Linked DNA regions of Homo sapiens. The protein of the gene in region 1 purifies or fractionates together with the protein of each later gene. This does not show direct contact. Each region holds a gene or a part of one and is shown on either strand. Other genes may lie near its edges.

Region 1 (3,824 bases):
TTATTGTAAGAACCATGAGAATTTTCTGGTCCCCTGAAGAATTTTAAGCAAAGGAGTTACATGATCAGATTGTTAAAAAGATAACTCTGGCTATAATGTGGAAACGCAGTATTGGGCATAGATTTGGGGAGGGTGATGTTGCAGTTAGCAGGTGAGAAATGAAGGCTGCTTGGACTAGAGTGGCATAGTGGAGGGAGAAATGTGCAAATTTGGGATAAATTTTGAAAGTGGGGCCAACAAGGCTACTGATGGATTGGATGGGGGAAAAGGAAGAAGAGGCAAGAAAGGCTGTTAAATTTCTATCTAGTTCACTGAATGGAGAATGAACCATTTACTAAGATGCAAGTCACTGAACAAAAACCAGGTCTGAGAGAAAGATTTTGTACACTCATCCAGACAGCACTTAAACTTTACCCAAAAATTCCCAGGTGTGACTGCTCTGCTAGGGATAGACATTCTAACAGGCTTTCCTGTATCCTGGCACCAGCCCTCCTGGTGGATTCTGTGAACTCAAAGCTTCCCTCTTCATTAAAAGGCAGTTTTTCCTGGGGAGACTCATGATAATTTATGGAGGTAAACATGGCCAGAGAAAGAGCCCAGAAATTCCCGTTTTTCCCCTGAGCAGGAGCTGGGGTCTTCAGGGGGTTTTCCCTGAGGTAGAGCACCTTTCCCTGAGCTTCAATGACCTTTTCAAATGACAAGAGCACACATATCTAGAAATGGGTTTGAACCTGCAGGAGCTTGCAAACGAGGGGGAATTCTTGCACTTCACATTTAAGGGCATCACAAAGGAAGGAATCAAGCTGGAGTTTCACTAGTTCTAACAAAATGTTCATTTTTTATTGATTTTTCCCCACTGGAGACTCCAATGGCAGCAATTCAAGATGGTCTTGCTAAGGGAGAAAACGATGAAACAGTATCTAACACATTAACCTTGACAAATGGCTTGGAAAGGAGAACTAAAACCTACAGTGAAGACAACTTTGAGGAACTCCAATATTTCCCAAATTTCTATGCGCTACTGAAAAGTATTGATTCAGGTAACCACTGTGTGGTTGTGATTATGTGGAACAGAAAGAGTGATTCCAGGAAATGTATGGGTGTGTTCTTTTCTTCCTGTTTTCAGTTTCCAAATGTAATCTCCAATGACATACACTGTGGGCTTGGGGAAAAGGGTTCACATCGATTTTTTTTTCCAAAGGAGCATGCCAGTTATGAAAATATTTAGGAAAGGTGATGTTTCTGGATAATTTAATCTTCTTGTTAACAGAAGGTTCATTTATTTGTTCAGCAAACAAATACTGAACGTGTGCTATGTACAAGGTGCTGGAAAAGACCTAGCACAAAGATGGATATGAACCAGGCAGTGTCCTTGCTCTGACCCAGTTCAACCTCAACTCTTATTGCAACTCTTTTTTTCTCAGCTTGATTGAGGTATAATTGGCAAACAAATATTGTATATATTTAAGGTGTACAATTTGATGTTTTGGTACATTTATACATTGTGAAATGATTATCACAATGAATCTAACTAGTGTATCTATCACCTTATAGTTAACATTTTTTTCTTTTTTTTCTTTTATTCTTTTTGTGTGTGTGATGAGAACACTTAAGACCTACCCTCTTAGCTAATTTCAAGTACACAGTACAGTATTGTTAACTATCACCACCATGCTGTACATTCTCCAGAATGTATTCATCTTGCATAACTGAAATTTCATACCCTTTGACCAACACCTCCCCATTTTTCCCTCCCCTTAGCCCTTGGCAACTACCATTCTACTCTCTTCTTCGATGAGTTTGACTATTTGAGATTCTACATATAAGTGAGATCATACAGTATTTGTCTTTCTTTGCCTGCCTTTTTTTATTAGCATACATGTTGTCATACACACACACAAAAGTAGGAAGGAAATCCTTCCATTTGTAACAAATCTTTCTTTAAAAGGCTCTACTCACTTTCCTTAATGGAAACAGTGTATGAAACCTAATTCATCCTTTTTATATTATTCAAGAGATCTTTATGAACAGTTTCAGTTTCAGCCTTTATGAACATTTTAACTTCAGAGTTAAAATGGAGAACATTAGACTGAAGGAATCTGGGAACCTCAAACACACTTGGGAAATTATTTGTTTTTGTTTTTGTTTTTTTAAAGCTAAGTATTTCATGCATCCTGATCTCTTTGCTCATATGTGCAGTGAGTTAACTGAGGATTCAGTCCATGTTTATTTTGGTTAATCTGCAAGGAGGATAATAATGTGCAATGTTTCTGTTGTTATTGTTCAAACAGATGCTCTGGACTGCCTTCATGGCTTTTTCTTTCCCTGTTCAAGGATTCAGCCCCAGATTGAACATTTATATAAAGACTTCTATAATTGTAATCTATTTCTCCCAAGAAGTGACCTTAAAATAAGCTTTCATTTCTGGAGAACATCCTTTGTGCTTCAATTCCAGACATTGGCCAGATGGCACCGGCCACTCTGCTGGCTCTGCAGGGCTTGTACATCTTGAGGGTCCATTCTGAGCCATCTTGCCCCATTGGTTGGCAGATGCCCTACTCAGAACCTCTGTCATCCTGGTGAGTCACTTCTCATCAGTGAAGAGCAGCAGCGTGATGCCAAATACTTCTACGGATGTGTCCTTGAGCAAATAATGTGATAGCTGAAGTTACTATTTATCAGTTCTTTTCCAAGACCTCTTCCCCTGACTCTTCTCCCATTTTTCCTCCCTCTCAACCCATGACTTTATGGCATTTTTAAAAATTCTACTGTATAAAATGTTCCTTACTTGTTTTTATCTTTCCATTTCCCTCACCTCATTTCTTATTGTCTTTATTTTTCCATAATTTTAATTTAAATATTTATACTGAGTTCTTTGCTAGCATCTGTCTTTCTTGCCCAGGGTCTCAACCAATTAAGAATGAATAAAGCAGGTAGGAAACCAAAATATCATCTCTGTTGCTGATAAACACAGGGCTGCAGAACATAGCTTCATGTGAGAGCCAACAGTGGCCTTGTTTGCTCCCTACTCCTCCGTCTAGATCTTGGAACAGCCAGTCTCAGGGATGATTTGGGTCTGCAGAACAGGCTCGTTTCTCAGGTTCTTGCCTTGCACTGTTCCAGGCAAGTGGAAAAAAAGAAAGATTCCAAATCCCCACCAGTTGAGAAACATAGGCTAATGGCTGTTGCTTACCAACCATATCTGCGGGGGAGGATGAAGAGGAAGGGGGAAAGGCTAGGAGTATTTAGAGAAAATCTTTCAGTGGCAGCTCAAAGAATAGGGAAAATGGGTTCCCCCTCTAGCATCTTAGTTTTTCTTTTCTTCAAAAATGGAAACAGATTTTTTTTTCTGATTTTAGAATTAATATTTTTTCTGAGCTATTATGGCATCATTATCCATTTTGTTCCATCAAGATGCAGAACAGAATGTCAAATACAAAGGGTTCCCAAGAGGCCGAGCGCGGTGGCTCACGCCTGTAATCCCCACACTTTGGGAGGCCAAGGAGGGCGGATCGCCTGAGGTCAGGAGATCGAGACCATCCTGGCCAACATGGTGAAACCCAGTCTCTACTAAAAATACAAAAATTAGCCAGGCATGGTGGCGCACGCCTATAATCCCAGCTACTCGGGAGGCTGAGGTAGGAGAATCTCCTGAACCCAGGAGGCAGAGGTTGCAGTAAGCCGAGATGGTGCCACTGCACTCCAGCCTGGGTGACAGAGTGAGACTCTATCTCAAAAAAAAAAAAAAAGAAAAAAGGTTCCCAAGAAACTGCTAGTAATCGTTACTTAAAGGGAGTTAGAGGGGATGAGGAAGAGAATATTAC
Region 2 (3,824 bases), on another chromosome or scaffold:
TCAGTCAGATCTCAGCTCACGTATCCCCTCAGAGAGGACTTCCCCTCCCTGACCACCCTATCTGAAGTAGCTCACATTCCCCCACTATTCATTTCGGCCAGTTGAGTTTCCTTGTAGCAATTATTACTGTCAAAAATGATCTTATTTATTTACCTGTTTATTGGCTTTTGACCCGTTGCCTGTCCTGTTCTCTGTTGTTTCCCCAGCATCTAGAACAATAGGTGCCTGACACAATAGGTGCTTCGTAAATATTTATTATTATTATTATTATTTTAGAGACAGGGTCTTGCTCTGTTGCCCCGGCTGGAATACAGTGGGATGATCATGGCTCACTGCCATCTCCAACTCCTGGGCTCAAACGATCCTCCCACCTCCGCCTACAGAGTAGCTGGGACTATAGGTACACAGCACCAAATTTTCTGTAGAGACGGGGGTCTTGCTTTGTAGCCCACACTAGTGTTGAACTCCTGGCCTCAAGTGATCCTCCTGCCTTGATGGGATTACAGGTGTGAGCCACCACACCCAGCCTAAATGTTTATTTCATTGGTCAGTGTCAGAACTAGGATTGGAATTTAGATTGTTAATCTCTTGCCACAAGATAGGAAAATGGAGCAAGATGAGGAGAAAAAAGCATTTAATGGGAGAGAACACCCTTGTCTGAGGTCAGGGACCTGGGAAGCAAGCACGACTTTGCCACTGTCACTGTGTGTTACTTGGACAGTGCCTTATTTTCCCATCTGTGAAATAAAAGAGCTGGATAAGAACCTTAGTTTTGAGATCCTGTCTCCCTTAAAAGCTGAAGACAAAGGTAACTGATCCAAGGGCAGACAAGGGATGGTACCATCATCTCCAGCTTGGACTCCCACTGCTGACAAAATTTGTCCCTTCAAAGTTGAGATAGCTACCATGGGGAAGAGCACTTAGTTCTATACTGAATGGCTCCAGGCATTTTCATGAAAGCTCTTTCAGCTTTGGGGAAGAATATTCATCCATATCTTTACCCCATCATATTAGTGTCTAAGCCCTGCAATCAGGCATGTCAGCCACGTGATGGAATGGGAGGGCTGCAGGGCAGCACTGTCCAGTAGAAACGAAATGCAAGCCACATATGTCATTTTAAGTTTTCTTTTTTTGAGATGGAGTTTCACTCCATCACCCAGGCTGGAGTGCAGTGGCACGATCTCGCCTCACTGCAACCTCCGCCTCCCAGGTTCATGTGATTCTCCTGCCTCAGCCTCCTGAGTAGCTGGGATTACAGGCATATGCCACCATGCCTGGCTAATTTTTGTATTTTTAGTAGAGATGGGGTTTCACCATGTTGATCAGGCTGGTCTGGAACTACTGACCTCAGGCCACCCGCCTTGGCCTCCCAAAGTGCTGGGATTACAGGCATGAGCCACCGCGCCCAGCTAATTTTTGTATTTTTATTTTATTTATTTATTTATTTTTTGGGAGACGGAGTCTTGCTCTGTCACCCAGGCTGGAGTGCAGTTGTGCGATCTTGGCTCACTGCAACCTCAGCCTCCCAAGTAGCTGGGATTACAGGCATGCACCATCATGCCCAGCTAATTTTTGTATTTTTAGTAGAGATGGGGTTTCACTGTGTTGGCCAGGCTGGTCTTGAACTCCTGACCTCAGGTGATCCACCGGCCTCAGCCTCCCAAAGTGCTGGGATTATAGGCGTGAGCCACTGCACCCGTCCTAATTTTTGTATTTTTAGTAGAGATGGGGTTTCACCATGTTGGCTAAGCTGGTCTGGAACTCATGGCCTCAAGTTATCTGCCCACCTCAGCCTCCCAAAGTGCTGAGTAAGCCAAGTTTTCTAATAGCCACATTAGACAAGTAAAAGGAAACAGGTTAAATTCATTTTAACATGTTTTACTTAACCCAATGTATCCAAAATAGCATTTCAACATGTCATCGGTTTTTTAGTTTTTTTTTTTTTTGAGATAGTGCTTCGCTTTGTTGCCCAGGCTGGAGTGCAGTGGCACAATCTCGGCTCACTGCAACCTCCACCTTCCAGGTTCAAGTGATTCTCCTGCCTCAGCCTCCCGAGTAGCTGGGATTACAGGCACCCGCCACCATGCCCACTAATTTTTGTATTTTTGGTTAGAGATGGGGTTTCGCCATGTTGGCCAGGCTAGTCTCAAACTCCTGACCTCAGGTGATCCACCCACCTCGGCCTCCCAAAGTGCTAGGATTACAGGCGTGAGGCACCGTGCCTGGCGTCATCGGTATTATTTAAATGAATTATGTTACGTTCTTTTGTGCTGTCTTCAAAATCTGTTATATATTTTACACTTACACCAAATCTCAATTACCATGGTACATTTTTATCTGAAATGCTTGACCTTTATTTTGATTTCATAAAATTCATAGTTGGAGAAGTAGATTCACATATCCAAGTTGTTCCAATTATATAATAGTTTTCCAAAAACTGAGATGGGTGTCCATTTTTTTTTTAAGTAAAGATGCAGGTCTGGTTATGTTGACCAAGTTGCTGGGTTGTTTTGTTTTGTTTTGAGACAGAGTCTCACTTTGTCACCCAGGCTGGAGTGCAGTGGCATGACCTCAGCTCACTGCAACCTCTGCCTCCCAGGTTCAACTGATTCTCTTGCATCATCCTCCTGAGTAGCTGGGACTACAGGTGTATGCCACCATGCCTGGCTAATTTTGGTATTTTTCTCAGAGACGGGGTTTCACCATGTTGGGCATGCTGGTCTTGAACTGCTGACCTCAGGTGATCCGCCCACCTCGGCCTCCCAAAGTGCTGGTATTACAGGCATGGGCCACCACACCTGGCCTCAGCTGTTCAATTAAAAGTAAATACAACTTAAAATTCTATGTTTCATTGGCAGTAGTGCAACATTAATACTGAGTAGCCACATGTGATTAGTGGCTATGGTATTGGACAGGGAAGGTACAGAATACTTCCATCAACATAGAAAATTCTATCAGTCTAGCTCTAGGGGCAGATAGTCCTTCCACTGACTTGGGCAAGTCACTCTACAAATGGCATCTACCTCACATGGTTATGGTGAGAATTCAGCGTATGTATGTACATGCAGGCACACAATATGCACACAGACACATAACATAGTACACCCTTTCCTGAAAAGCCTGACACATGGAGCTCAAACATGAGTGCCACCCACCCCTGGGCAGCACCAAGATGGCTCTAGTCTGGGTGCCTTTGTCTCACCCCCATGCCTTTGCTCGGAGTGTGCTCCTCATTTTTCTGCCACTTTGACCCTGTCTCTGATTTGGTCCTGTCTGACATCACTGCTATATGCTTTGCTCCTCTCAATTTCCTCTGCCCTCATGCCAGCAGGAGTCATGCCAGAGATCATATCTGAGAAAGCAAGACAATTTTGTGTGTGTGTCTGTGCCCATAGAGGAGTGCTGGTTGTGTTGATATAGTTGTAGATTGGTTGTGTTTACACAGTTGTATATATTGACACCCTTGAGTGTTATGACTTCTTTTGGGGGTGGTCGCCTTTTAAATCATAACTTTTAATGGGATTCCATTTTAGTCTTTGTGAAGACATAAGGTTGTTGGCAGGCATCTGTCCCTGGGAGCATCCAAGCAGAAAAGACTAAGACTCCCTTGTAGACAGATCACTGGCCGCCACTGAAGTGTGTCTGCATGGCACCACAGGGCTGGAAGACCCTTGAAGGCAGGAATTCAAGGAAATGTATGATGAATTTTGGCATTGCCATCAAAAGCAGAACAGGCATGGAAAACTTGGGTGAGTGGGCGAGACAACCTCCTCACCACAGCAGAGTTCCATCCATGCCTGGATAATGATGGAGGGATTTGTGTC

The links.
Region 2: the proteins of SCG3 (region 1) and IRGQ purify together in Homo sapiens (affinity purification with mass spectrometry; 2 studies listed by BioGRID and IntAct, with this or other methods). This does not show direct contact.

The regions. Positions count from the first base shown.
Region 1 is NC_000015.10:51,691,297-51,695,120, forward strand, and holds part of SCG3 (secretogranin-3 isoform 1 precursor), read left to right. Parts: intron 1-862; coding exon 863-1,040; intron 1,041-3,824. UniProt on the Homo sapiens protein: Member of the granin protein family that regulates the biogenesis of secretory granules. Acts as a sorting receptor for intragranular proteins including chromogranin A/CHGA. May also play a role in angiogenesis.
Region 2 is NC_000019.10:43,586,028-43,589,851, reverse strand, and holds part of IRGQ (immunity-related GTPase family Q protein), read left to right. Parts: 3' UTR 1-3,824. UniProt on the Homo sapiens protein: Autophagy receptor that specifically promotes clearance of misfolded MHC class I molecules by targeting them to the lysosome for degradation.